Linked DNA regions of Homo sapiens. The protein of the gene in region 2 interacts with the protein of the main gene of each other region in a biochemical or structural test. Each region holds a gene or a part of one and is shown on either strand. Other genes may lie near its edges.

Region 1 (5,963 bases), on a different chromosome or scaffold from region 2:
TGCACCTCAGTTTCTTCATCTGTGAAATGGATAACAGTGGGACCCCCCTCACTGGTCACTGGGCAAATGAGATGATGGACTGAGTGTGCTTTGCACGGTGCCGGGCTCATAGAAGTTGATGTGAAGAAAGGATGGCAGGTGGACGCGTCTTACAGAAGTGGAGTTAGTGAGAGTGAGGGAGAGGGGTCGAGGAAGGGGAGGAGCTGGAAGGCGGTGTCTGTGGAGGTGCTGCCATGTGCTGGCCCTGCCGGAGGGAGTTTCATTGGCCCCGGTCAAGGCAGGGAGGGCTTCCTGTAAGAGGAGGGCCAGGGGCTGTCTTCCTTGCCTTCAGTGGCATGGAAGTGCCTGACCCATGGCACTGTGCACAAGGACCAGCCTTCTTGGTAAATCACAGGCAGGCTGGCGGCAGCACCTCCTCCTCCTCCCAGGGGCTGGCTGTGGCCCAGCTGGGTGTGGAGTTTCACAGCCAGAGGAGCCAGGCTGGCCCCACATTGAGCTCGGGTCTAGGTTGAGCTTTTCTGGGGCTGGACAGGTTGTCACATTTGCCAAGGGCCAGCACGGAGCAGGGGAAGCGCCCAGGTCAGGGCTTGCGGGGCCTGGCTGTGCACCTTGGGCAGGTCCCGTGGCCTCTCTAAGCCTTGTTTCCTTGCCTGTAAAATGGACTCAGTTCCTGTCTTGCAGAATTGCTGCAAGAATTCAATGAGATCACAAACTTCGGAGCCCAGCCTGACGTCCCATGCCCAAATCGGGTCCCGCCTGCGAGGTGTGGCCCGTGGAGGGGGAGGCAGCGGGTTCCTCTGGGCCTGGGCTGCAGCCCTCATCCCGCCTGCGTTCCACATGAACAGGTCTCTGGGCTTGAGGGTGGCAGATGGCAGCATCCACCCCACGGGGAGCCACAGCTGGACCTGAGGCTTGTGGGGGCACGGTTCACTTGGGGACATGGCTCGGTGGGGCAAAGTTCACTAGGGGACAGGCAAGTTTTCCAGAGGAGGAAAAGCAAAGGAAGCTGCCCTGGGAACTAGTTAGACCCAGGAGGCAGCCCCTTTAGTGGTGGGCGGGGCTGGGGGCTGTTGAGGGGGCCCCTGGAATGGCTCCTCTGTCTCTGAAGAGCATTCATTCGCTCCCTCATTTGCTTCCTGCCCACTGCAGCGGGCCAGGTCCAGCCCAGACGCAGGGGTGCAGGCCACAGGTACACTCCCAAGGGACTAGCTTTGGGAAGGGTACGAGGTGCTGTTGGGCCCAGAAGGAGAGGTGGATCACCACGCTTGCAAAGTCAGGGTAGGCTCCCCAGAGGAGGCGCTGCTGGCCTGGGCCCTGAGGAATGACAGGAAGGGCATATTCCCAGAGGAGGGAACCACATGTGCAAAGGCACAGTGACACTTAGGAGCCTGCACGCGCAGGAAGCAGAGCCGAGGTCCACAGGGGAGAGTGGCAGCACGTGAGGCTGCAGATGTCAATGGGACCAGGACACCCCAGGCCTTGAATGCCCTGCTTAGAGGTTGCCATCTGGTCTGTAGACCATGGTCACCGTTATGGACAGATGGGCACAGCCTGGGACCCATGGCTATCCACTCATGGCTCCTCCATCCCCAGCTCACAGCTGACCACTGGGTGGCAGAGGGGTCTGCTAATTGCAGAGGGCACTAAAAGAAGGGGCAGGGACCTTAGAGATGGAGGAACAGAACTGGGTGTCAGTCCCAGCTCTGCACATTATGTGCTAGAGGGACTGATGCATACAGTTGGGCAGGTTGTGCACTGCACAACTGCAGGGAAGCTGGCCACTCTGATATTTGTCAGTAAGGGCCTGGAGTTACGCAGTGTACAAACACAAGGTATCCCCACAGAGTATCTGGGCCTCAGTGTCGCCATCTGTTCCATGGCAGTTATGACTGTCCAGAGCCAGCACGTGGTCCTCTCTCAGGGTTGGCCACAGTCCCCCAGGACTCCTGGGAGTTCCATCAGGCAGGGCTGTTGGAGCTGGAGCCCTGGCACCCTACTTGTCTCCCCTGCCCTGTTGCGCCCCTTCCTCTCCTGGGATGTGACACCGGACACCTAGCCTCGGGCCTTGATTGCTTTGCTCTGTGTGAGGGTCTCCCTGACTGAAACTTCCAGGGCTTTAGATTCCAGTTTATTGAGGAAAAAAAAAAAAAAAAGGCTAACGGCTGAATCTGGTTGAGACTGACTGTTGACTTCAGAACTTTGGCTCGAGGATGGGGTGGGGGTGGAGGTTGTCAAAAACCCCCAAATAAACAGAGTCTGCTTCCCAGCCGTGGGGCCCACGGTTTTCCTGTGGAAAGAGGCAGTGGGAACCGCGTCCTCCCTTCCCCCTGATTCATGGCTGATTCATCTGCGTGTTGGGAGGAGGAGCTGGGGCACGGGGGCCCCTGCCCCCACCCCACCACCCACCGAGGTCCGCTTAAAGGGACAGGACCTGGTGGGGCCCTGCAGGGGTGCCCCAGGCTCTGGGGTTGCCTAGACCCTGAAATCCAGCAGACCTGGGCCAGCGCCAGGCCTGCCCTCCCTCAGTGATTGATCTTTGCCTCTAAGCCTCAGTCTCCTGGGCCATAAAATGGGCGAGTGCTGCTGCTTTTGTGAGGCTGCTTGGAGACTTGGTTAATCAGCTGACCCACATTCTTTCTTCAGGGTGCTCTTTGCAGACCTACTGTGTGCTGGCTCAGAGAGCATCAAGAAGGGCCCCCTTGAACTTCTCTCCCTTCTCTCTATCTTCCTCCCCTCCTCTCTCCGCCCCTCCTCCCCCTCCATCCCTTCCCTCTGAAATGTCTCAGCGGCTGTCTCACCCTGTGCTGGTTACCACTGGGGTGTGGAAGCGAACCAGATGGTCTCTGTCCCAAAGGAGCCTGGGGTGTGGGGTGGGCACGTGCGGGCTTCTCTTTGGAGACTCTGTGGGAAACAGGCCACCTCCCAGCCCAGCCCCACGGCCCTTCTGTCTCAGGCCTTGCTCTCCCTCCCTGTTTTATTTTCTCTTTGAAAAATGAAAAAAAGTCACTGTAACTTTACCCCAACCACAAATAACCACCATGTAGTAGAATTTTGATGTTTCCTGCAAGGCTTTTACTTAACGAATATTTCACAGAGGGTTTTAAAACAAATCATCCCCTATAAAATCGAGTGTCACCTATTTTAAGTGACCTCTGGGAGACCACACTGGGGAGAAAGTCCTTCCGGTGGAGGCCGCAGTGCTGTGCAGATCTTCAGGCTGCCGCGTCAGAGCTCAGGGGCCCAGCAGCCCAGGCGCTTGAGGGGGTCCAGGGGCTGGGCTTTGGCAAGCAGGGGGTGGACACGTTGGGGTCCAGAGAGCTTTCCGGCCCTGGGTGTTGGAGTGTCTGAGTCCAGGATGGAGACACACAGGAAGGCAGCCTTTTCTAATCACCTGTGGGAGGAGAGGTGCTGCCATTCCTCCTTCTGCTGTGTTCACACTGGGCCCAGGTCCCTGTGTGCCGTGGCTGCCTGCACAGGCAATGCGGGCTCAGCCTGTGGCTTTCCATGTGCTGTGCCCCTGCCCGTGGGCTCTTCCAGGCCTGGGTCAGGGCACCTCTGCACTCACCCACCCCACGCCGGGCTCCTCTCTGCCTCATCCCTGGTGATGCTGTGCTGTCTCTGGTCGGTCACTGACTTGACCCTTGCCCCCAGCTGAACCACTGTGTCTCCAGCAGCTGTCACAGGTGGGCACACAGGAGGCACCCTGCACGAGTGGCTTGAATAAGGCTGTGAGCAGCGGCAGATTCGGTACAACTGGGGCTGCTGCGGGGCTGCCTGGAGGAGGCAGGATTAGGGCCGGGCCCAGGACCAACCAGAGCATCTTGGTAGGGAGAGTAGAGAGAGGTCGTGCAGGGGGAGGTGTAGAGAGGTGGATGATGAGCAGAAACTGGAGTTGGTGGCCCGACAAAGGCCACACGGTAGGAGAGGTAATATGGTCCCACCTGGGGGCTGTGCCCGTGCCCTGGCGCTTCTCCTCAGGCGAGGCACATGGGGCGCCAGCCTCAGGCCCCAGGGCACACAGGGGAGCAGCAGACCGGCTGAGTCCTCCCTCCTGGAGGGAGGAGGGCCTGGGCCTGGGGGTTGCCCTGGGATCCCTCTGGGTCGTGGAAATTGTGGGTCTGAGCGCATCTTGTGAGAGCTCTGAACCAGCTCCAAACCTCACCAGGGAAGCAGGCTTTGTGGCTGGTGTCCTTCCTCTCTACTTGGGTGCTAGAAAATGAACTCAAGTTCCCAGGGGCAGGGAGGAGAAGCAGACAGGCCTGGGCTGCCCACTCGGGCCGCACGGCAGCTTCACCTCACCAAGGGAGCCGCCTGCTTTGTAGGTGTCGAGCAGGGCAGCGCATCCCTCATGGAAGCAAACGTGGGCAGAGAGAGCCCTGGGCCCACAGCAGGCCCTGCCCCTGGGGTGTTTGTTAATGTGACCTCTGAACCTGAGACCCCGCTCTGCCGCAGTGGTTTGATCTATGAGGAGCCTCGCGGTGGCCGGCGTCTCCCAGCCAGGCTCTAGCCACCCCAGACAGGTGGCCTTTGATTCAGGCTGACTGAAGTGGACGAGGGCTGGTGTGGTTGGTGCCTGCGGGCCGGTTGAGAGGCAGACATCGGAAGTCTGGGAGACCCAACACCAGAGCTCGAGCCAACCCCCTAGGTCCCAGCTCAGGCTAAAGGGCTCTTCAGGGCCTTGGGGAGCTGCAGGGCAGAGGTGGGGGCACCCAGGGAAAGGAGGCCTGCGGCCTGCGTTCAGATCCTGGTTCTCCCCTCCCAGCCGTGAGTCCTTGGGCAGGGGGGTTCTTCTTACAGAGCCTCAGTGTCCCCACCTTTAAAATAGAGGAAAAGTTTCCTTCCCCTGGCTGCCCCTGGAGAGTTGGGTGAATGAATTGGGATGTGCCTGGGGATTGTGTTTGCCCTGTGATGATTCCTAGAGCACGGACCGCGGCCCGGGCCCTGCCCCCACAGTGGCATCCACCATGGTACCTTCGTGCCTTTGGACGATCCAGAAAACCAGATTTTCCCTCGGTCCCCATGCCCGGCCACTTCCCAGAGATCAAGAGAAATGTGGGCTGCAAAGCTGGAAAGCTGGACGTTATGGACTGAGCCCTCTTTGCTCCCCATTGCCAAGGTGGCTGGGTGGGTGGGTAGCCCCCCGGGCAGGGACTCGAAGTTTGCAGTCCTCCACACTCAGTTCCCACAGATGTGGTAGGAGGGCATATTCAGTCCCATTTTTCAGATGAGGAGTTGAGGCCCAGAGAACGTAAGTAATCTGTCTGAGGCCACACAGCTAGAAAGCAGCCAGGCCCAGCCGAACCCCTGGTGTGTGCAGCCCCCAGCCCAGTTGCTCATTGCGGGGCTCGGGAGCCACGAGCGAGGCTGAGCAGCATGTGTTCCAGATGGTGGGAACTGGAGAGAGCCCGGCACAGGCCCGTGCAGGGAACCCCGAGGGCTGTGGGCCCCGTGCCACTGCATGCCTCAGGCCTGTGGTCCTGGCAGCCACAGCCCCTACTGCTGACGGCAGCAGGAATCTGAGCCCGGGAAGGGTCCAGGGAAGTTCGTGAACCATCTAGCAAGTCGGGCTGGGGTGTGGCCAAGTTAGACACAGATGTAGGGCCCTGTGGACTCAGAAATTGGCAGCTCTTTTGGCCCAGAGGGGCCACACTGTGTCCGGGCCTGGGTAGCTCAGAAGGGTCACCTGGGGGTCTTCCACTACACCCCCGCCTGGACACTGCTGTAGCCCCAGGGCTCGGAGGGACCAGCTGGAGCCCATGAGGAGAGGGCCAGTTCTCTCCTGTAAGGGTATTGCTGTAGCATGAGGGAACAGACAAGGCCCAGGGGGACTAACCCGAGATCCAGCCCTGGCCTCACTCCCGTGTGGCTCACGGCAATATCCTAACCTCTCTCTGAGCCTCCTGCCCAGCCTAGCAGGGTCCAGTGAGGGGGGTGAGGAAGCCCAGCACGTGGAAGCCTTTTTA
Region 2 (6,438 bases):
TCCAGGAGGCTGCAATCTGGAGCCACATGGGTTTTGGGACTGGATGAAGTGTTTTGGACGTTCGTAGTTAAACATGCTTAGTTGGTATATGGAAGATGAAGGCAAATTATTACTATAATGATTTGTTCCTGGAAGGGTGGGGCCCTGAATTTGGGGCCACAAGCCTGGAATTACGGAAGGTTGTAAGGAATCAGAAGCAACCTTGGTCTGCTCTTCCTTGTTGAGATCCTGAGAATACTGTGCTCCTGGCTTTGGTAGAGTGACCTTCTCTTGAAGAATATTGTTCCTTCAAAAGGAGAAAATAATTGTTACAATATTTGCTTAAACAATAACATTGTTTATTTGACATCTTTCAGATCTGATGTGCTTTTTCTTTTCCTTTCTTTCCTTCCTTCCTTTTGTGTGTGTGTGTGTGTGTGTGTGTGTGTGTGTGTGTGTCTTGCTTAATCGCCCAGGCGAACATAGCTCACTGTAGCCCCTCCAACTCCTGGGCACAAGCGATCCTTCCACTGCACCCTCCAGAGTAAGGACTACACATATAAGCCACCACGCCTGGCTAATTTTTCTTTTTTTCTTTCTTTCTTTTTTTTTTTTTTTTTTAGTAGAGACAGGGTTTCACTATGTTGCCTAGACTAGTCTTAAACTCTTAGCTGCAAGCAATCCTCCCGCCTCAGCCCCCCTTGGTGCTGGAGTTACAGGTATGAGCCCCCGCACCCAGCTGAGTGGATTGCTTTTTAACCTTACAATTCACTGCTTCTTTTTCTCTCCTTGATTCCAAATTGACCATATTACTAAACTAGATATTAATTAAGGAGTGACTGTGTGTATATGTTTGTGTAGAACATATGTTACAGGCTGCATTCCAGAGCCACTTATACATTTTTCTGTTTTTATTATGTATTTTTAAACAGAATCATACCTTATAATTCTGTTATTTTTAGATTATACTTCCTAGTTGTTGGTCTTGATGTTCTTTTAATTATCTAGAGTTTTACTTTTTATTATTTGTTTAGTATGTATTTTAGACTAATTTTGTTTTTTGGTCTTTTTTTTCTTTTTTTTGCCACACCTTTGGAGATCTCAGACTAATTTTGAAATTGCTTTAGCTCTTTTACTTTTTCTTTTCAAATGGCAAACAGGAAGCATAGAAGTAAATAAGACACATATGAAACTAGTCTATACCTTACCAAGAAAAGACAGGTGCCATTCCTCCTACTTAGCTCTGTAGTGGGCCTCCTGCCTTCCTACAGTACATCCTCATTTTTTCTCAGATGAAACATTTGCCATGAAAATCAACCTTGAAGGATTATATTTGTCTCTGATTTTTTTTCCATTAGTATGGTAAACCTAAGCGGGACTATATATAGACATTACACACAAAGACTAGTCCTATAAATTGTTTTCACACTAATCCTGTTTTCATTGAAAATATCAGATAAATTGATTCAAAATACATTTGCCTATTTTGTTTCATCTGGTATAAGCCAATACTGAGATAATGACAAATCAAACTTTTAACTGAAAAATTAACCAAATTGTTTGTCATCATTGAAACGAAGTCTTCTAATTATTTTAGTTACTGTCTTGGATAAAATGTTAATAAAACTTTTCCAGACCAAAGAGTTTCATCCTAAATAATAGGATACCTTCAAAAAATAGTATTTCAAAGTTGCCTATGTAGTTTAGAGTTAAATTAAAACTAGCAATTTTAGGAAAAAACAGAAATGCAACTAAACAGCCAAGAGAAAGACGCTATTGAGAAAGAATACTTAAAAAGTTAAATATTCCTTAATTTCAAGTTTATGAACACAAATACATTAAACTAGAATGCATTTTAGAAATGAACTACTTTAGGCATTTAAATTGTTGGGGAAAAACATCCTGAAGGAGGGCCTTGAGTAGATCTAAAAAAAAAGTCTATTTCAAGGCAAGTAGTTTTGTAGTTATCGGTTTATTCAGTCTGTTGCAGAATTGAATCCAGAGTTTGATTCCTAAATTTCTTTCTGGGCAGGTACATTATTGAGACTCATTTCAGATAGCAAGGAATAAACCGCTTATGAAATAGTAGATATTTTCCAGAAACAGTTCTCTTTTTTTCTTTACATATATTTTCAGAATGGCAACTGTCTTGTACATGTTGATATTGGCCTACATTGTTAATAATTAGTGATATTTTTAAAAGCCCAATTAAAAATATGTTATTTCATAAGTTTCATTTTATCCATGTGTCAAAATTTTATGCAGACATTTACGCAGGTGATCCTGTATTTTCTTTATGTTTGTAGTTACTGTTCAACAATTTAATTCTATAATAGATTCTGTTATATGACAGGGTCATTTTATTCCAAATAATGTTAAATGAATTTCAAAGATTTTTATAAATAAAGTACTATTCAGTCTCCTTTTTAAAAAATCTTAACATTTTTTTCCTGTCTCTAATATAGCATAGACTTGCACAGAAGACTGATAGAGGATATGTTGCGTTCATAAGACATCACCACAATTACATCAGATCAAGTGTCCCTTTTCAAGGAAAAATGGTGATTTAAAAATAATGACACACAGCTATCTTTCCTTCTATCATTTGTATAATGCCTTCCAGTCTCAATGAAATGAATGAGTCGCTTTCTCTTTAAATTTTTGTGTAATACCATTATAATGTTGTGGCTTTCAAACTTTTTATCTGAAAATCATCTTTGTATACACTCATCTGATTTGGACAAAAAACAAAAACAAGACCTAAAAGTGTAGTAGGAATAAAGAAGGGACTTACCCGTAGTTCCAGAGGGTGCCAGCTGGGTTTAACCCACTATTGAAGGGAAGGAAGAGGCATCTCCTTCCCTCACAGACTAATCTAGTGGCTCTGTGCTTAGTATTATAGCACCACTGACTTTTATCAGCTGCCAAACAGTGACATCTGATGTGCTTGCCTGTCCATCTACCTATGCTGGCATGTCAAAGTAAGAGTCCACAATCTAAACAATATCTCACGTGTCTTAGTGGTATTTAAGGAGTGGGATTACATGAGCTTCTTTTGCAAGCCTCTTTATTTCAGACGTGAATTTTGACTATGAACTTTAGCAAGCTCATGTGAGGGAAGGGCAGTGAATAGGGAAATGGGAAAAATAGAAAAAAAACCCTCTTATTTCTTTATTATGGTGGGGACTTTGAATTTTCCCAGTTTAAGAGAGAGGACTAAAGGGAAAATAATATTTCAAGAGTGGAGTTCTTCTATCTATTATACTAAGACTTCTCCAGGAATAAGACCAGTGATAGATGGGCTCCCAATTGATTTGTATTGCATAATTCTTCATCTGAAGTCTTTTTTCTTTTGCCTAATGAGAGTAGGATTCAATAATAGATTTGAGGTCTCTCAGTACTAGCAGTTTGTTCCGAGGTGGAGGGCAGTCTGGGCAAAGCAGGAGACCGAGGTCATAGTGACATGTCACTGGGAAGGTAGGGAGGTGGAAAAACATGATGGTGTTTCTTGAGCAAGTTTTCTGAATCTGTATGGCATATGCCCCTTTTGCCTAGTACTTTTATTCTGAAAGAGTTTTGAAACACTTAAGAAACAACCAAACAAATAAGCAATCTATATAATTAGAGCTGTCAATGCATGTTCATCTCCCTTTATTCCTAACAGTTAGTTTCCTTTCACTTTTTGTCACAGAGACCATCATGGTATTTAGATTTCCATTTTTGTGCAGGGAAGTAAATAATTGCAGAAGAATAAAATGTCGAATCAGCAAATGTGGTGAAGTAGGGTAGGTGGCATGAGGATTGGGCCAAGGGAGTAGAATTATCTCCATGGGGTGGCTTCAGTTCCCCTCCCTCATGGGTAGATACCCCAATCTTGATTGAATTAACATGTATATTAGAATCCAGCAAATAGATGTTTGAGCACATATGAGCCATATAAAATCCTTCACAGCTGGCCAAGTAGGTGTACCTTTCTTTGGTGTTCAAAGAAAGCTTGATAATTTCTGCCTGGGCGTGCAGCCCTTAGTAGAAAAAGCATGCTAGACTTGGTGAGTAGGTGGTTGCCTACAAAGTCTTATTTCAGGAGTCTCCCAAAATATTCTTCAACATCTGTTCACTGATATTTCAAATTCCAGTAATACAGACAAAACCTTTCCATCTAAATTAGAGAGACTTAAAATACAAATGCAAGTGATAGGATAAAAGTAATAATAGCCAATATATAGCATTTATTATGAGTAAGACACTCCTTCAAGCATTTTATTTTATTATTAGTTTTTTTTTAGAGACAGGGTCTTACTCTGTCACCCAGGCTGGAGTGCAGTGATATGATCAGAACTCACTGCAGCCTCAAACTCCTGGGCTCAAGAGATCCTTCCTCTGCAGACTTTCAAGTAGCTAGGGCTATAGGCATGCAGCACTATACCCAGCTAATTTTAAAATTTTTTGGACAGACAGAGTTTCGCTATGTTGCCCAAGCTGGTCTCAAACTCCTTGCCTCAAGCGATCCTCCACGTCGGCTTCTCAAAGCACTGGAATTATAGGCATAAACCACATGCCCAGCCTATCTATTCTAAGCAATTTTAAATGTGGTATATGTGACTGACATTTGGTTCTGCTGGAGAACAGGGTTTGATTAGGGCATGGAAAAGGAAATAATAGATTTGAGGTCTCTCTGCACTAAAAGTTTGAGGTATACCTCACCAGCCAAGTAGGGAAGACATCCAGGACAACCTGCTAAATTCCCAATTTTGCCTACAGCAGGTTCTAAGCATACTACACTCGAGGAAGAATTTAGTTCTGCTTACTCTTTGTCTTTCAAGCTTTGCCTCTTCTCTAGGTCTTTGTAAGATACAACCCAGGTTACCGTGTGTTACATGTGATAGCCTTCATGGTACGTCAAGGCTAAAGTTTTTGCTATAATGGGATCAAGGGATGATTTAGGAAAGGTAAGTAGGTCCTCTTTTATGATACCATTCTCAGTAGTCAGGGGCTATATTAATAATCTACTGTAAATCTGTTTGTTCCTGCCTTTTAATGTTTGATTTGCTTTTTTGAATGGTGGTTTGTTTCCTCACAAATATAGCTATTTGAATGGTTTAATTGCCTATTTGAGAAAAATCATAGACTCTTAAGACTGGAATTATTACAATGCCAGATGGGTGAACTTTTACTACAACCTGCTCACAAAGACAACCTTTTCCATTTCTTTTTCTAAATTATCAGTAAGGGCCTTCAGTAAATTATTCAAATGCCTTACAAAATATAGTAACTTCCTACTATCTCACTGAAACCTTTCCTGTTACATGTTAAGGGATTCCTTGTCTATCGTCAGTTTCAGAAACAGGGTAGCTATTTAACTGTCTCTCATTCTTCCCTCTTCATATATAGCTCTTGTCTTTCAAAAATATAAGATATATATGCCATTGTAAAAAAAAAATGGTGCTGTGAACTTCTTTTAAATTCGGAGGTCAGATGTGTGTGATGAAACTCATTTCTGCTATATCAACTGAAAAGGAAAACGTCACATTGAGGATGGAAGAACTAAGGAGTGAAGAAAGTTTTATTTTAGTTCACACAAATTCACTGTGGTTATTAAAGTTCTGCATAGATATATAATGAAAGGGAATCCCATTGTAGCATTTGTAATTTGAAATATCCAGTCTAACATTTGACTCAATCTTATATTATTCTCAAGCAAGAAATAATAATGGAATCCATCGGGTTTGGAGTTAAAGAATACAAATGATAACATTAATTTGGCTAATGCTCTACAACTTTCTAGACATATTTACCTTTTGTTATCTGTTTTTGGAGACCTGAGTGTGAGGGCCCACTCCACCACATACATGCTGTGTAGCCTTAAACAAGTTGCTTAAACTTTGAGCTTTAATAACTAATCGAAAAATGAGGCTAGGCATGTTGGCGCATTTCTGTAGTCCCAGCTACATGGGAGGCTGAGGTGGGAAAATCGCTTGAGCCCAGGATTTTGAGGCTGCAGTGAACCATGATCACACCACTGCACTCCAGCCTGGGTGACACAGCAAGACTTGTAACCCAGACTCACAAAAAAAAAAAAAAAAAGAGTAGTACAAGGTTTACCAACCTAAATCAGACGATTGATGAGAGACTCAAGTGAAATGGGAAGTCATATAATGGACATTCTGTAGGTTTATCTCCTTAACTAGATTAAAATGTTTCTGAGAGAGGGACTGTTTACTACTTATTTATCTTGGCCTAACGCAGTGTGGCTCATAGTAGACACTCAATAAAAACTTGTTAACTTTTATGGAATATTTACCCAATAGTTTTCTCCATAGGTGATTTTACTAATGAAGATGGTCATGTGTTATGAAAGATACTAACTTATAAATTCAAGGTCTTTTAAAGTTTTATTTATTTGCTTATTTTTGTTTTTGAGATGGGGTCCCACTTGGACTCCCAGGTTGAAGTGCAGTG
Region 3 (5,963 bases), on a different chromosome or scaffold from region 2:
CCGCCTCCAGGCACGGCCAGTCCTGCCACAGTTGCCAGGGCTGCGGCCACGGCTCCATGTCCGAGTCCAGGCACCCATCACTCCAGGCAACGCCCGTGTCATCAAGTCTTCGTTCCCACCCCATCTCTTTTCATTTCTTTAATTTTTAAAATCCTGTTGACTTTTAATATCAAACATCACTTAAGGGGACAGAATACTTTTTCGTTTCTGGGGGACTGCAGTACAAATTTGAGAAGTAATGTTTTTGCTCAATTATGCCTTTTTCTAAATCTTCATAATGTTTGGGAGAATTATACTTTTAACTCAATTAGGTTTCCCCAACTCAAAATGTCACACTGTATCAATGCATTTGGGTAAAATATAAAATTATGACATATAACTATTTCTGTATATGTGTGTGGAGAGAAAGAGAGAGGAAGGGAGGGAGAGAGACAGAGGCAGACAGAGGGGAGGAGGAAGACAAAACCAGATGGGAAATTCTCAGCTGTTAGACATTGCCTTACTCTTTGATTTGGAAACATTCTGATGGCTTCATTTTTAATGTTTTTAGACATAGATTTGACACATTGAAACAAGTACATGATTTTCTGTTTCGGGTTAATCATAAATCATCAGAAACATGATGTCTCCATTATTTTTCATGCACGAATGAGCATCAGCAGAGACTCAGAAACACCGTGTGCTCACGTTCTGAAGTGTCAGCTCCCTGATGTTGGCTGAGACCGCCCGCAGCCAGTCGGTGCCATCCTGGGCTGTGTAAAACCGGAGGATCCCAGAGCTGACTCCGTCCAGGGCGAGCACCTCGAACGCATTCCACCTGGGGAGGGAGAGAGCTGTCCAGGAGGCCCCGCAGCGACGGGAGCGGGCCTGCCTCCGTGAGTTTCGAGGCTGATGCTCAGCAGGGCTCTACCCTGGACCCAGGACATGGGGCAACTGCACCACTTCCTCAGGCGCCTCAGTACAGTCAGCAGGCTCGCTGAGACCAAGACCAAACCCCGAATTCCCTTGGTAACAGGAGCTACTTCTAATTCGATGAAACATGAAAAGCACTTTGTCAAGGAAAGAACAGTGCTCCTGAAATTCTGGAGTTATTGTCTGCAGGATTCTTACTGGTTATTCTTTCGAAGACCCTTTGGATGGAGCACTTAAAGCTCCTGATGGGGTGAGGCTGGAGCAGCCCAGCACCCTCTGCACTCAGCATCCACCCTTCTCTAGGACCACCTGTGTGCTTCTGATTGACAGGGGAGCTTTGGGAGAACATAGTCCCCTTCCACTGCTCCATGACACTCCACTTGCTGAGAACTCAATCATGGCAAAGTATTAACAACCAACCGTCTCAAATTCAGTAGTTCTTCCCTGTCATGCAATATTTTTTAAAAACATACTTTACATATGCCTATTTGCAAAAGAGAAATGTCATGTACACTTTTATAGACTTTTTCTTAAGAAAATAGTGCATATTGGCCGGGCGCAGTGGCTCACGCCTATAATCACAGGACGTTGGAAGACTGAGGTAGGTGGATCACTTGAGGTCAGGAGTTCGAAATCAGCCTGGCCAACATGGTGAAGTCCCATCTCTACGAAAAATACAAAAATTAGCCGGGCATGGTGGCACACACCTGTAGCTCCAGCTACTCGGAAGGCTACGGCAGGAGAATCTCCTGAACCCAGGAGGCAGAGGTTGCAGTGAGCCGAGATCACACCACTGCACTCCAGCCTGGGCAACAGAGTGAGACCCTATCTGAAAAAAAAAAGAAAAAAAGAAAACAATGCATATTAATGTATATGACTCATAATACCTCCATGGTCTCAAGCAGCTAACTGAAGATAAAATACAGAACAAAGCAAACATATTTTTTTAAAAAAATAAGTCATCACTAAGCTATGTTCTAATAATCTTTCAAATGTGAGTGTCATCGCTGCTTTCTTAGGCAAGGTGGGGTGTGTAGGAGAAGGGGTAGGAAACAGAGATGGTATAACACAGTTCTGCATATTTTTGAGCCAAATCTATCAGACCAGAGTTTGCTATTTTAAAAGTCATTCTTTTAAAAAGCTGACATCCCTGTCTAGGGGTCATTCTCATTCTAATTAGTGTTTCTTGAATCAGAATGTGAGGTTTATCTACTTGTGGCTGATATTCTGCCTGATGGCGATGAACAAGGTACTCTTGACTTGGCAGGAGGACAGAGGTGAAGGTGGAGGTGACTGTGTGGAGCCGGAGAGGGGAAGAAGCCAGAGGAAGCAGGTCCCCTGCATGGGGAGGGCAGGCAGCTCTGCCTCCACCTTCGCACAGCCCTTTCTGATCACCTTTCCTGGTCCTCCTGGGGAGCACCTGTCCCTCAGGATCCATCGCTTCCCGTGGGGCCTTTGGTCCTGGATGTCTGCTATAATAAATTAATTTTTACACTTCAAAATGCTGGGAGACTATTTTAGGCAGATTGTGTAATATTCCACATGAATTAGGTGCTTATTAAATATTGACAGACTTATATCTACACTTTTGTCCAAGTATCCATTAATTCTTATTAAAGTAAGTGCTAACTAAAAATGGGTTCATTGCCATCATTTCTCATTTGTTCATGTTAACTGGTGCGACATATACAAAGCAAGGCTGACCTTAATCTAGTGGTTAATAAACAGCTGGGTCAAGTAGATTATTGCGGACGACAGCCAAGTTCCCTGGCTCCCCACATGAAGAGGTCAGAGACTATTATTTTTAGGCATATTTTACATTGAGCTACAGGACACACACACACGCACACAACTCACCAGTGAACACCTCGATAAACAGTCATGTATTCCATACTCTTGGCCAACCAACTCTCAGACCAAAAACAGACTTTAGAAGAATCCTCAAAAGTTCCCTGTGTCCCATCCTCCAATTTTCCCCATCTCAGAGCTCTACGCTTTTATTCTTTCAGAAGAGCCTGTTCTTCTCCAAAGGCCTGGGGAGGAACAGGGGGTGGTGCCAGTGTGGGCCAGGGGCAGCTTTTCCTGGATCCAGCTAGACTAGGGGGCCTGCAGGGATCCTGGGGCAGCGTGGGGGTAAGGGTGCCTCCTCTCATGAATCGGGGGTGCCTCGTGGGGCCTGCAGGGACCTCAGGGCAGCGTGGGGCAGGGGTCCCCCCTCTCATGAATCGGGGGTGCCTGGTGGGGCCTGCAGGGACCTCAGGGCAGCGTGGGGCAGGGGCCCCCCTCTCATGAATAGGGTGTGCCTGGTGGGGCCTGCAGGGACCTCAGGGCAGCATGGGGTAGGGGCGCCCCCTCTCATGAATCGGGGGTGCCTGGTGGGGCCTGCAGGGACCTCAGGGCAGCGTGGGGCAGGGGTCCCCCCTCTCATGAATCGGGGGTGCCTGGTGGGGCCTGCAGGGACCTCAGGGCAGCGTGGGGCAGGGGCCCCCCTCTCATGAATAGGGTGTGCCTGGTGGGGCCTGCAGGGACCTCAGGGCAGCATGGGGTAGGGGCGCCCCCTCTCATGAATCGGGGGTGCCTGGTGGGGCCTGTAGGGACCTCAGGGCAGAGTGGGGTAGGGGCGCCCCCTCTCATGAATCGGGGGTGCCTGGTGGGGCCTGCAGGGACCTCAGGGCAGCATGGGGGCAGGGGTCCCCCCTCTCATGAATTGGGGGTCCCTGGTTGCGCGTGAGGGCGTGTGAAGGACACGCATGGTCACCGCTTGGCTCCAGCTCACATGTACTAACGACAGTGTCTTCTCAGGGAGTTGGCATTTCCTGATTCTCAGGGTTGGTGACGTATGCACCAAATGCATGGATGACTGAACACTGGGTGCTCTCAGCAGGGTCAGTACTGTGGTCATCCTCGTAAAGTCAGTGGTGAGAAGGAATCTGAGTCCAGAGTCCTAACTCTGCCTTTGGAGGTTTACACCATCATTGATGTAGCAGGAATAAGATGTGAGTAGAGACAGTGGACCCAGGCTCCATGAAGGACCCTTTATCGATGCTGTGGTCTTGAGAAAGATCATCAGCTTTGCCCCCTGAGGCAGTGAATGCACGTGGAGCCCCAGAGGCTCACGGACTCGCACGAGGGGCAGACGGCTGTGTCCTGCAATAAAAAGGAAGGCGTCTGCAGTCCAGGCACGTTTATGCCATAGCTTCATGAGGCAGGCTGGACATCTCACCTCTGAGCTGGGCTTTCCTTGTCCGTACGATGGGCTTCAAATGCCAACCGTACCACAAAATAGGAATACTGAGAGGAACAAATGGGATAACTGAAACAAAGTTATTTGTAAGCCCGTAAGTACCATATAAACATTATTAGTCTGTAATTTATCAAAGAAAGCAATAAAAATTAAGTATCAAATGAACAGAAACTGTGAAAGTTGTTGACATGAATGCTGATGGCAGATACTAACATGTTAATGAAACAGGGAAAGAAAGTTCACAGCGTGGCTCACTGTTGGTTCACTGTTTGGTTTATTGTTATAGAAGCCGGGTAACTAGTGTAAGTCACGCAATCTGCTTTCAGGCACGTCTGGATGCAAGATCAGGAGCCGCTTCTTCCAGGGCATTTCTGGGCCTTTGTTTCCTCCGAGTTTCACGGTTTCCTCCGAGTTTCCTCCGTGGCTCACAGTTGGAACCCGGCCTCTCTACCCGCCTCATGGTGGCCGCTCAGGCCTTTTAGGATGGTGTTCACGTGGCCAAGGTCATTATCGGAGCTAAAATTCACAGAGCATCTGCTGCTCAGGAGCTAACATGCTCTTTGATGGACACACATGAGATTGTAGGAAGCTGCTGTAAGCAAAGCCACACCAAGTGAAGGCAGAGCGCTTGGCACCCCGGGGTCCACCGAGAAGAAACCAAACCAGCTCCCAGACACTCGCCATCCATGGGGAAGTCAAGCACTGACTGTGTCGGCACTTTTGAAAAGTCTACCCTCCTCCCAGGGTTTCCTCGTGCCCTTAGAGAATTTTTCAATTCCAAAGAGAAAACTGAAAATAGACTTATACTCTAGAAAGTGAATCAATTCAGTTTTTGGCTAAGAGAAATAAATTTATTCCAATAACGTTCAAAGCACATGTCTTAACGTATTAGGACATTAAGGAATTGAAGTTACGTGCTCAGGTCTCCACCTCCTGTGGAGGACAGCCAGTCTGTTTAAGCCGTTCTTCCTGCGCTCTTGACTGTGGGCTCAGTGCCAGCCTCAACCCTGCACCCTGCGGCTCCTGCCGGGAAAAGCCCCACAGCCCAGCTCTCATGTGCCCGGTCACACTGCCTGCCTTCGCTGCGGTCTTCCTGTCCACATGCAGAAAGGCCTCCGAATCCCGCCCACACCGCTGGGAATCTTCCTGTCACAAAACACACCTCAACAGATTTGACCCTTTTTCAAATCATCTGTTTCAGCGGAAACCAATCACAGAGCATTAGCAGTTGTCATTAAAGCCCCAAACCGAGACCCCTGCTACATCCGCTACCAATGACCACTCTTCCAACCTTCTGCTTCCCTTGTGCTGTGGGATTCCAGTAACTATAAAATTTGACCCTAAAAACTGAGAATTCTTAATTGCTCGTCAAAGCTTCAATGCCGGAGAAAGTCAAAATGTGTAAATCGCCTTTTTAATAAGCTGTCCAGTTTTTAAAGAATAAATACATTGGAACGTACAAAATTTAACCAAGGAAGCTTTCATCCATAAATGATGGCTGGTGGCCTTCATTACAACCACAGCCTGTCACTCCCTGTCGGCTCTGGCCACCACCTCCCTCTGTGCCTGTGGTAACAGAGAGGAAAGGTGTGCATTGCACACATGCCTGTTTACTTTAAGCCTTCATGCTTTGGAAAATAAGGAGAGTGTGCATGTGTGTGTGTGTGCATGTGTGTGTATTTTAGCTCATGACTGAAAATTACGAGTACTCGAGACAAAAACAGAACGTGTATGTTTCAGAATTTGAAAAATCTTGAAATTTCGTTCACATATTTTATTTTAAAACTGTCTCTGTAGTATATTATTT
Region 4 (5,963 bases), on a different chromosome or scaffold from region 2:
ACTGAATCGGAAAGATAACAGTAAATACAAGGTTTTATTTGTTTTTAGTAAATATAGTTTTGAACAGGCTGCATTAGAAGTTCCTGTGAGACATTTAAGTACTGATAGCAACTAAGCAGGATGTGATATTCAAGACTGAGACAGAAGTATCCGATACTCAAGAGAAAAGTGGGCTGGAGATGGTAATTTTGATGTCAGCAGGATGTATACGGTAACCGAAACCCTAAGAGTAGATACTACTCAAGGAGAATACGCAGAGTGAGAAATGTGACGGCCTAGGACATATCCCTAAAAGTCATCTACATTTTACAGATTGGTAAGTAAATGATGCCCATAGAAAGAGACTGAGAAGATGCAGCCGGATGAGTTAAAATGGAAACTTCAGTATCTTCAAAACTAAAATAGTCTTTTTGGAAAAAAATAAGTCAACAATATTCAGTGCTGCTACGTAAGTTAAAGACCCAAATGTTACAGCATTTAGCATCAGGAAGATAATCTTAAGAAAAATTTCAGTTAAGAAAGGGCAACTGGAAGACAAGGCAGAAGAGACTACGAGGACAGGCAACTCTTTGAAGAAGCCTAGTTATGAAGAGAACATACAGAATATAGAGACTAAAGGGATTTGTAATTGAGGGAGAGTTTTTTAATGGTTTTGCTTACATGTTTTTGGAAGGGAAGTAACAAGCAGAGCACAAAGGAGGTATCAACAGAAGAGGTTCCTGATACAGGTGTGGATGGGATTCAAAGCATGGATGACAGACAATCTTTCAATAGAGGAGAAAAGAATACATGACATACAAGACATTAGAGGGTACATGTATTTTCTCTTTTTTTTTTTTTTTTTTTTGAGAAAGTCTCACTCTTGTCCCCCAGGCTAAAGTGCAATGGCACGATCTTGGCTCACTGCAACCTCCGCCTCTCAAGTTCAAGCAATTCTCCTGCCTCAGCCTCCTGCGTAGCCGGAATTACAAGTGCCTGACACCATGCCCGGCTAATTTTTGTATTTTCAGTAGAGACGGGGTTTCTCTCTGAGAATTTACTGACCTCACGTGATCCACCCACTTTGGCCTCCCAAAGTGCTGGGATTACAGGCATGAGCCACCGTGCCCGGTCTATGTATTTTCTACTCACGTGAGTTTACGTAAGTTCTTCTAGAACAGAAAATTTATGTAAGTTTGGATACATCTGTATATTGAAATTTTAACAATGGTGTTCTCTGTGAAATGGGATCATGGTCTATATTATTATTCTTGTCCTATTTTCCAAATTTTCTTTTAAAAAATGTCTTTGTCCTTTAAATTATAAAGAATAATTCATTAACAAAGAAAATCCAGAAAACAAAGAAAAGCAGAAAGGGAAAAACAATACCTATAACCCACTAATGAACTGCTTTCACAGGCTGAGAAAACATATAAATGGTAGTTACATTACTTCATTCTCTCAGACAAAGGAATGTGAATGGAAACGTTGAATTAGAATAATCCAAAACTTTTAATTGATTCCTAACTGATTCAGACACAGAAGGGTGAATTCTGGTAACCTCTTAGCTACCTAGGTCTCTGTTTTAAAAGAGAATTGTTAAATCTCTGCTTAAAACGGTAGAATTCAGATATTTGGGGCTATTAATTTAGAGCTAAATTTTCAATACTGCCTTCCTTCCTGGTCTTAATCATTTTTGCTATCTAAGTATTAATTATAAATAACATCCATTAGTAACATTCACGCTCACTGGCAACAATTTTAAAAAAGAAAAATTTTAAATGGAGGCTTACAGTTGTGGTAAATTTGGTCTAACAAAGGGATCATTCTCTGCTCCATTGACTGCTTTGTTTTTCCTTTGTTTTGGTTCAGAATTGGTAGAGGGTGCCTGAGAATTATTAGCTGTGGGAGGTTTGCGTTTGGCTAGAAGTTTCCTTTGCCTTTCAATATCTTCCCTTTGCTGATTCACCCATTCTTGTTGCCTGTGTAAAAATAAACAAATAAAACCATATTAACCTTCCATTACTTTTCAAGGCTAAACTTGGAAAAAATGCATAAAAAACATGAAAAACCATAAAATATACATTCGTAACCTTTTGGTTCCACTCTTGTGAACCAATTTGTACTTATCCTTCAGGTCTCATTTGAAAGAATTTTTTTAAGTGAGGTATTCTCTAAACCCCTAGATTAGGGAAAGATGTGTTGCCATATATAATTTCATGGGATCTTCTATCTCCCCACCTCACTCTTTCTAATAAATATTATTCCTATAGATACTTTATCAGAAAGTGTCCGGTTAGATGACATCACTCCCTAAGAACACAGATGGTGTCTATTTATACAGTATTTATACTGTTGTATCCCTAGTACCTAGTGTAGTGATCATCACTTACCTTTGCTCAGTAAATGTTTCTTGAATGAAATGAGATAAAACAATACCCCAAACTATTAAAGTATGGGGTATATGTTACACATGCATCTCACCACAGTATTTGCAAACAAATTTACAAAAGGCAAATATGAATTTAATGTGAAGAGAGTTATTTTCTAAATCTACTTTTGTTAAAAAAAATTGGTAATGGGAAGTTGGTGTTTTGAAATGAGACAAATTAACCTTAATATAAGAAATTTATGAGAAAAATTTTTTTGATAATTTAAGGGGAAAAAGACAAGAAAATAGCAAGAAAAATTAGCATGGCTCTGAAAAATGGGAAAGTAACAAAAATAAAATCAATGCTTCCCATTCAAGAAACTGAAACAATTTTGCAAATAGCTCCCTAATTCTAAAAACGAATAGATACCATGTCTATTATTAAAATGTAGATTAGATATTTTAGCAGTTTGAGCAGAGCATAAAGTAGTTAACAGTGAAGCTTTTTAAAACCAACTTATCATACAACACCTTAAGCTTATTCTAACAGTAACCATGTTCTCTTTCAGGTCACCTCACTATGCCAATAAAAAATTTTCAAATCCTACATGGTTACAATACTTAGAGCAAGTCAAATATTTCATGCCCTCCTCTCCCCAACCACTGACATCAACTAAAGGGCTCCTACTTTGCTAATGCAGAATTGACCTTACACACATCCCCTTCCCTATGGTTTTAGTGATAAAGTAGCAGAATATGATAGGAGTGAAAAAAATCAAGAAGAATCTAGGTAGAAGATTGAAAGGGTAGAGAAAAATCTCAAGAATAGCAAAGTGAGAACAAGACTTTAATCCGGTTTTCATTTAGAAGCAGGAATAAATTTCAATTTTTAATAAGTAAATCTTAAGGCTATTTTAGGGCACAATCAAGATGGTATAAATGCAAATAAGCAATAATAATCCTAATGATTAAAATATTAATGGAAAGTAAAGAATTACTGGAATAGATATTAATAGCTGATTACTCAGGGATGACTATACAGTTTAGAGATTAATATTATTACTTTTATTTATTTCTCTTCTCATCTTCTAACCACTCTGGATTATATCACCAATTATAAACGGCTTGATATACACACAGTAGGTCCTCAATAAATGCTTATTAGTGAAAGTCAGGACATACAAGTAATTATTTTCTTTTTTGACATTATTTTTTGAGACAGACTCTCACTCTGTCGCCCAGGCTGGAGTGCAGTGGCATGATCTCGGCTCACTGCAGCCTCCACCTCCCAGGTTCAAGCAATTCTCGTGCCTCAGCCTCCCGAGTAGCTGGGATTACAGGCGCCCACCACCATGCCTGGCTAATTTTTGTATTTTCAGTAGAGACAGGGTTTCACCCTGCTGGCCAGGTTGGTATCAAACTCTCAACCTCAGGTGATCCTCCCAACTCGGCCTCCCAAAGTGCTGGGATTACAGGCGTGAGCCACTGCACCTGTGGCCTCTTTTCTGACAGTTAAGAGGAGAAATTGGAACTACTAGTAGAATTTATATTTCAGAACATTCATATTAATTATATAACTGTCTCTTTTATTCATTGCAGGACAATTGCCGGTCTGGGTTTAGTAGCAGAGCCTCTTGCTCATAAACACTAAAAAATTATCTTCTCCTGCTTTCCACTTTACTGTTGATATGTTAGTTCATGCTTTAATCACCTTTCATCTGGATACCCCTCCATCTTAACTACCAATAACATTCATCCTCTAATAATATTTTCACATTACCATCAGTTATTATTCTACAACTATCACTGTAGATATCATTCCGATCACGTACACTATATGTAAACCTTTAACAAGTCCCATTATCTGCAGAATTGAAACCCAAACTCTCTAATATCACAAGGACATTATCCTTTGTTTCACTGTGGTATAACTAGCACAGATATGTTGAAGAAAAGTTGAATAAATCTGCTGAGAGAGAAGGCCATTCTGTGGCAAGTCCTAGGAGGCAGTGTTTGAACAGCAATGTTGGTGTGATACCATGTGAAAGTAAGTTCTGCCTCTATTTCAAATAACTGGATACTCTGGAAAAGCTGATGTTCATGCTGGCATTACTCCCCATTTTCAGGTTTAAAAAAATTTTCCACCAAAAACGGAGTAGCATATTTAGCACTCCTTAACACATAAACAGCCAATAAATCCTTTTCTACCACCATCTGAACTCAAGAAAATATGGTAACTATAATTCCTCTGTTTAAAAGTTTGATCTGAAAAGTAACAGAAAACCAAACACCGCATGTTCTCATGTATAAGTGGGAGCTAAACATTGGAGACACATGGACATAAAGATGAGAATGATAGAAACTGGGGGCTACAAAGATGAAGGAGGCAGAGACAGGGGCAAGGATTGAAAAACTACTGGGTACTATGCTCACTACCTGAGTGGTGGGTTCAATTGTACCCCGAACCTCAGTATCAAGCAATATACCCCTGTAACAACCTGCATATATATTCCCTGAAACTAAAATAAAAGTTGAAATTAAAATAAATAAATAATAAATAGAGTTTACCTCAGAAACGCTAAAGCCACATGTTCAGTTTAACTGATAAATCAGTTATTATATCTGAGGCAAAAGAGAAGTTTTTTCCCTTAGGAATAGAGAGCAGGCAAGTGCTGAACATTAACATGTAAGGATTGGGGAATGGGAAAAAACTAAGTAGGAAAATCCTAGGAAATAAACACACACACAAATCTTCCAGTGAAAATTAAATTTTCAACAATTTCCCTCTCAAAACATCATCTGTAAAGCTAAAGGTTCAATTAATATCTCGGAAAGTCAGAATTAGAATAATATATTACATTCTATAGATGACTGCTAATTAATCAAGAAATTACTAAGCTAAAACTGTAATACTCTTGGTTTCATATCCCTTTCAAAGGTACTAAATTCTATGATTTCAGAGTAGCGAGGAACTGGAGAGCATAATTACAAATCTATAATCTTTTAAAGTAATGAAAACCCAAACGAATACTAAAAACTTTTAAATGTTAAGAATGACTAACTTCACAAGATTCTGAAATGCAAAACCATCTGTCCATTGTTCAGTAAATGAAGCGCCATGTCTAACTGTTGTAAAGTGCCCGAGGCGTAATCGATCTTGCATACTCTTCTCTCTGCTTGACAGCTTTTCTTGTGTACTCTGAAAAGGAGAAAAAAAATCATCACTCAATTGTATTCATTAATTTATAAAAGCATACAAAGCAAAAGGGGCTAATGAAGGGAAAGCGAAAATTTACTCAACTTTTAGCCTACCTTTTCAATAAGAAGTTTCTTGCTCATTGATATGCACTTATTTAATCGTTCTTTGTATTTTTCAAGTAATTTTTGTTGTTCATCTATTTGCCGTCTGAGATCACAGTTAGCCTATGACATAAGTAGAAAATGCAAGAGGTCTAGACTGGGGAATATGAAAAGCTTAGAAATAGTTTTAATGTTCTAAATAAATTATATACAGATAGGACTAATAATATTAAATATCTGAGTATGATACGAGAAAAAAAAAAAGCCTACTTAACCATGAGATAATACTGTTAAATGTTACTTAAGTGTGTAG
Region 5 (5,963 bases), on a different chromosome or scaffold from region 2:
CTTGATAGCAAGAAGAAAAAACAAGGAAGCTCAACTAGTAAAACTGGGTATATTTGTTCAAGGCTCATGTGAACGAAAACACATAAATCATCTACTCATGTGATGAGTGTACTTGCCAGTTGTATAAGCACTGTGTTATAATTTGTTCTGTACTGAAAAGATAAATTATGGATGAGGCCACCTAATGATGGCTTCCTTGGAGAACCATGCCTGAATATTCATTAGTAGAAAAGAAACAAGAAGGCAGAGGAGGGAAGAGTATGCAAGAGAGTAAAGCAATGGGGATCAATGAGGTATGTGCAGAAGTATTGACCTGGTGAGAGACCAAGTTCCAGCATTAGAGTTACCTAAATTATATACAACCTCAAAAGCTTTGTTGAATGATTTCATTATTAAAATGGAATATTCCACAGGATGTATTATTTTACACTCAAATGGTGGCTCCTGGGGATTTTAACAATATAAACATGCTCCTGCCCCATACCAGACCTACTAAATTAGAATCCTTTAGCGTAGGATAGCTCCAAAGGATTCTGATGCCCACTTAGGTAAAGAATCCCTGCCAGAGTCACTTCATGGTAAAAATGACCTACAGAACAAAATATAAAGTATTTATCCTTGAAATATGCATTTAAGTAAATCAGCTTAGTATTTTCCTAAGTTAAAACTTCTCCCAACATGTACCCCTCTGAGTTCCACCACAGAATTTCTCTAAACGAATCCCTCACCTTTCACTTTTCCTTTCCTAAGCATATGGCCCCCAGTCTGCTCAGAGAATCATTTTCCCCACACTTTCTCATACATTTTTCTTTAAAAGTCCCACATATCTCCAGCTGCCCTATTCTATCTTTTAAAAATATTAATCCTACCCAACTAATATCTAATAATATCCTACAGAACAAAGCAACTATGAAAAAGTTCCATTAATATGCTATACAATAAACCAAGATTTATAAAAAATTGCTCTATTGCCTATTCTAATAAATATTCTAAGTAGATTTATCAAATGAAATTGAAAATCACTTTTTATAAAAGATTTCTTCCAAAAACATAAGAATTATGAACTGGGTCTATAAAAAGGTGATAAGCTAAGCTCCTTCAATTAAATCTTTACTTAGTGCTACTAAGTAGGTAACAAAGTGCTGGGCTGTGTGAAGGATACAAAGTATCGGAAAATCTCGGTGATTTATAAACAACTTTACCAGTACTGGGGTAGAAGAAAGGGGAATGGAGAAGATGGAAAGGGGTAACTAAATACCACTCAAAAGGTATCTCTTTTTGGGGGAGGAAGCCTGCTGTTTCAGTTTGTTTATGACTTTAGCCAAAAACAAAGCAATGCAAGTTAGTGTTCAAATAAGTTGTGCATTAACTTTTTACCCTTTCACAAACATCTGTATCAATTAAGGCATATTTCCAGCCTTTTCTATTTACCTTAATGCTCTTCAGAAATTTCAACCACATCAGATTTTGATTTGTGTTTCCACCAACAATGTGAAAGCCCCTGTTAACTAATAGCCTCTTCAAAAGTATTATCAAACATTTTCCATCTGTCAGTAGGTGAAACAGTATCTCATAGTTTTTATTTATAATATTTGTATTATGTGTGAGGTTGAATACCTTTACAGATGCTTACAAAACACTTGCATTTCCTTTTCTGAGAATTACTCTGTTCATGATCTTTGCCCACTTGATGGTTGGTCTTTTCCTAATTGGTTAGTAGGTACTTTATATAAAGGAAGTTAGACTCTTATTTATCATACAAATTGCAAATATTTCTACCAGTTCCTCCATTATCATGCTATTTTTATTTTACTTCCTTTTTGTATATATTTTATCTTCCTCAATCAAACTGCAAATCATGCCCATGAAAGATATCACATTTCTTTTCTATATCTCCAGGAAGAGTGCTTTTCAGATACTTCAGATTTCAAGATCAAATTTAAAAAGAGGAGAGACGAGTGTTTTGCAGCAGATGAATAAGTATGAACATTAATTATCACAGGGGCACCTACTTGGATTGTCTGTTTAATCCCATTACATGTGGTTACAGCAAGTACAACCAAGTTCTAATAATGAGATATAGTTTATTGAACAGGGAAGAACTAGATGAACCTTTCTCCAGTTTCCCAGGCTGGTATCATGAAAACTCAGAAGCTACTGGTGGCCATATTTTCCACTAAGAGGACTAGAAGTGGTCCTCTGCAGCAAGAGAAGGAATGAAGCAAACGCACAGAGAAGAAGAGAGAAACGATATGATGTGCCCTGCAGGCACTGGAGTCCCAGTCCTTGCATTCCACTGGACATTGGCTGCATTTGAACGATAAATTCCCTTTATAACAACTAGAATGGATTTCTATTACTTATGGCCAAAAGAGGCCTGTTTACCATACTACTATCATTTTATAAAGGAGCATTTGAACACCGAAACCTCAGAAAGAACATGACCTCAGATTTTTTAAAAGGATGATTTATTTAATGACAGCTATGTGCCAGGAACAGGTCTAAGTCCTTGAAATATAGTGTTAATCAAAAGAGACAAGATCAGCAGGGTGTGGTGGTTCATGCTTATGATCCCAGTGCTTTGAGGCACTGAGGCGAGAGAATCCCTTGAGATCAGGAGTTTGAGAGCAGCCTGGGCAACACACACAGCAAGACTCCATTTCTACAGAATTTTTTTTTTTTAATTAGCTCGGCATGGTAGTTGTTGCCTATAGTCCTAGCTACCAGGAGGCTGAGGTGGGAGGATCACTTGAGCCTAGGAGTTCCAGGCTGCAGTGAGCCGTGATCACACACACCACTGCACTCCAGCCTGGGGTGACCGAGTGAGATTCTATCTCAAAAACAAAAACAAAAAGAGACAAGATCATTGATATCACGGGGCTTATATTCTAGTGAGTATGGAGATTATAAAATAATATAAAAACATAATTTCAGATACTGATAAATGGTTTGAAGAAATTTTTAAGTAAAAAAGGTAATGGGATTGAGGGGGATGAGGCTAGTGTCATTCTGGAAGGATGGTTAGGTAGCAATGCTTGTCTGAAAAGATGATATTTGAACTACAACATGAAATGATGAAAAGTAGTCACTCATGTAATGATTTAGGAAGAGTTCCCAACAGAGTGAACATAGTGCAAAAGCCCTAAGTTAGGAGCAAGCCATGGCATTGATGAGGAACAAAATGAAGGGCAATGTAGATGAAATATAGCAAAAAGTGGAGGAAGAGGGTAAAGAAATGATAGATTTAAGAGGAAAAGATGTAAATTGGTGAAGGAGGGATTAAATCATGTACAAAACTAGCAAGCAGTAGAAAGGATCTGAAAATAACTTGAGCTTTATGAAATATTCATTATATTGTCTTTAATTCTCATTTTGCCTTGTATCAGTGATAACTCTGACAGATAGGCTTTTAGAAACTTCCATTCCCAAGTACTTAACACAATCCTAAAGTTAGCCAGAGATGAATATATTCCTAAGCAGAAAGTATCTCTTCTAGTACACTATATTAAAAAAAAAAAAAAAGGAAAAAAGGAAAAAAGAATTTTCGGATGAAAGCAAAGTCATCTTAAAGGAAAGAAGGAAAATAACCTAGGATGAAGGAAAAATAGAAACTAATTTTGTTCTGTTCATTACTCTGTGAATATACTTACTATGATAAAGATTATAGAAAGGTCTTTGAATTAGTCTATCATAATTAAGGAAGGTCATAAAACTTAAGTTCTTTCTAAACTACTATAAACGTAGCAGCCTCTGTTTACTGAGTTCATTATTATTGAATTGGACATTAACAAGGTTAAATACTGTCAGAAAAGAAAAAGTAGAAACCAGGCTTTTGACTTTATTACACCTGGTAATAATGGTCACAGCTTAATGGTTAACAAAGTTGTGGGCTTTAATCTTATCTATATGACTATGATAAAGGAAGAACTTCCCCTCTGCGGTGAAATGAACACTAAAATTAGCTACATGGGATGCTTCAATATCTTCTCCTCCAAAAGCTTTTTATAAGAGGAGACCAATTTGTTTAAAGGGTTTGGATATAGATACACTTCACAGAAGAGTGATGATCTTTCCAGATCCTTCCAGACAACTAATATCTGTGTACTCTAAGCAAGCAATTAAACCTACACTGCTTCTAAGATTAATGCAAGTAAAGTCGGATCTTTGAAAGCTATAATGTATTCAGGAATCTTATCTTTCATTATGTTAGAGGCATACTTAGACCACTTAACAGTAGACTGTTAATAACACAGTCTATAAAGAATGATACTTTGTAAGCATGCTGTGAGTTAAAGAAAGAAAAGTCATTAAACACCTTGATTGAGACTTGCTTCAGAGTGCATCCTCCTCAGCACACTACCCAGCAGTTTGACAAAGTGCCCAGGATTAGCAGCCAATGTATGTAAAGAAGGAATATGGTCAAGCCCAATTGTAAAGTCTCCCCCCAGTGGTCAGATACAAGTAACAGAAAAGGAGGAAAATCATTGCAGCTTCTGTGAGACTGAACAGGAAGACTAAACAAAACTGGTCCCTACAACAAAAAAATAAAATCTTTAATTCAATACTAGCACCATATCAGGAAAGAGATCTCTTGTGCTTATCTGCTCTTATATTTATAAATGTGAAGACTACTTTTCTAAAGAACCTACAGTTAAAACAAAACTAGCATAATTTTTCTCCGCCTAAGTTTTAAGGAATAACTGACATATTCCCAAACAGTTCAGTATTTATCAAATGGGTAAGTGTTCATTCTTCCTGAAATAAACATCAGCACATCACTTACATGGTTAACTATACTTACCTGAAGTAGAGTTCTGATTTAAAAAAAAAAAATCTAGTCACTCATCAAGTGAATCACTCTGGAAGGAAAAATTATTAACTATTATATACCTAATGTGAATTTTACAAGATACTCTTTTTCAAAAGTCACCTAGCAATAGGTAATTTATATTAGAGTGATGTCAAAAGTATAAATGCGTCCTCTTACCTCTTTTAATTTTATTTTCTGGCTGTTTTTTTACAATTAGCCTTTGACTAGCACTAATCCTGTATTATTTGTAACTCTCTCAGCAATAATATGATGCTACTCCATTTTTACAAAGCTCAGATGTCAAAAATATGAAAGACATTTAATTAAAATATCTGTTTTATTCTGCTAATCCATTATTAAGTAGTAAAGCATGTAAAGGGATAGTAAATATTCAAACAAGCAACTTCAATTTTAAAACAACTTTTTAAAAAGATAACACATAGAGTCACAGTTATGTCTTCTTGGTTATCTCAAGCTAAAAAGAGGGGGAGTGGGGAGAGAAAGAGAGAAGCAGGCTATGTAGTGCTCTGGAACAATTTCAGCCTAAAATGAGACTCAGAAGCAAACTGCTCCCTCAAATGTTTAAAAATATGATTCATTTTTAAAAATCCAACAGTTGGCCTAAAGAAAAAAAAAGATTCTGTCTTATATAGAGCTACTAGACTTGCTTAAACACCTTAATTTTTCCAGTGTTGATTTAACCTAGAATGCAAAATAATTCATTTTGACATTCCAGATGTCAAGAATTCGGTGGCATCAGTAAGGACACATACACACCTCTTTCATAAAGATGGTGTGCAGTCTCCATAGGACAAAATTGAGCAATTAAAAGTGTTACCATTTGTGTATTATGTAACCGTAGTCCAGAATGAAGGAAACATGGACCTTAAAGAGTAACACATCGTGCAAACACGCATTTAAACACCTATTTAAATATATGATAGATTTAAGGTACAAATGACCTCAAAATGACACAACCCACAAAAGTTCTTTGTTTACTGTTAACAAGGCCTCAGAAGACATAACTATAATCAGGCCTACTACCCACTACCCTATCATTGCACAGTAGATGCCTACAATAAGCAATATTACTTGAGGTCCGTTGCTATACCTATATACGGAAACTATATACCGCATTACTAAAAATGTTACT

Evidence for each region.
Region 1: the proteins of MYOT (region 2) and HTRA3 interact in a test that uses a peptide from one of them, tested with the Homo sapiens proteins (one large-scale study listed by IntAct).
Region 3: the proteins of MYOT (region 2) and SNTG2 interact in a test that uses a peptide from one of them, tested with the Homo sapiens proteins (one large-scale study listed by IntAct).
Region 4: the proteins of MYOT (region 2) and TLK1 form a complex in vitro, tested with the Homo sapiens proteins (one large-scale study listed by BioGRID).
Region 5: the proteins of MYOT (region 2) and PALS2 interact in a test that uses a peptide from one of them, tested with the Homo sapiens proteins (one large-scale study listed by IntAct).

What each region holds. Positions count from the first base shown.
Region 1 is NC_000004.12:8,276,254-8,282,216, forward strand, and holds part of HTRA3 (serine protease HTRA3 isoform 1 precursor), read left to right. Parts: intron 1-5,963. UniProt on the Homo sapiens protein: Serine protease that cleaves beta-casein/CSN2 as well as several extracellular matrix (ECM) proteoglycans such as decorin/DCN, biglycan/BGN and fibronectin/FN1.
Region 2 is NC_000005.10:137,864,289-137,870,726, reverse strand, and holds the start of MYOT (myotilin), read right to left. Parts: upstream 2,868-6,438; 5' UTR 2,774-2,867; intron 287-2,773; 5' UTR 76-286; coding exon 1-75. UniProt on the Homo sapiens protein: Component of a complex of multiple actin cross-linking proteins. Involved in the control of myofibril assembly and stability at the Z lines in muscle cells.
Region 3 is NC_000002.12:1,232,742-1,238,704, reverse strand, and holds part of SNTG2 (gamma-2-syntrophin), read right to left. Parts: intron 818-5,963; coding exon 688-817; intron 1-687. UniProt on the Homo sapiens protein: Adapter protein that binds to and probably organizes the subcellular localization of a variety of proteins. May link various receptors to the actin cytoskeleton and the dystrophin glycoprotein complex.
Region 4 is NC_000002.12:171,044,402-171,050,364, forward strand, and holds part of TLK1 (serine/threonine-protein kinase tousled-like 1), read right to left. Parts: intron 5,774-5,963; coding exon 5,663-5,773; intron 5,550-5,662; coding exon 5,413-5,549; intron 1,962-5,412; coding exon 1,773-1,961; intron 1-1,772. UniProt on the Homo sapiens protein: Rapidly and transiently inhibited by phosphorylation following the generation of DNA double-stranded breaks during S-phase. This is cell cycle checkpoint and ATM-pathway dependent and appears to regulate processes involved in chromatin assembly.
Region 5 is NC_000007.14:24,574,831-24,580,793, reverse strand, and holds part of PALS2 (protein PALS2), read right to left. Parts: intron 1-5,963.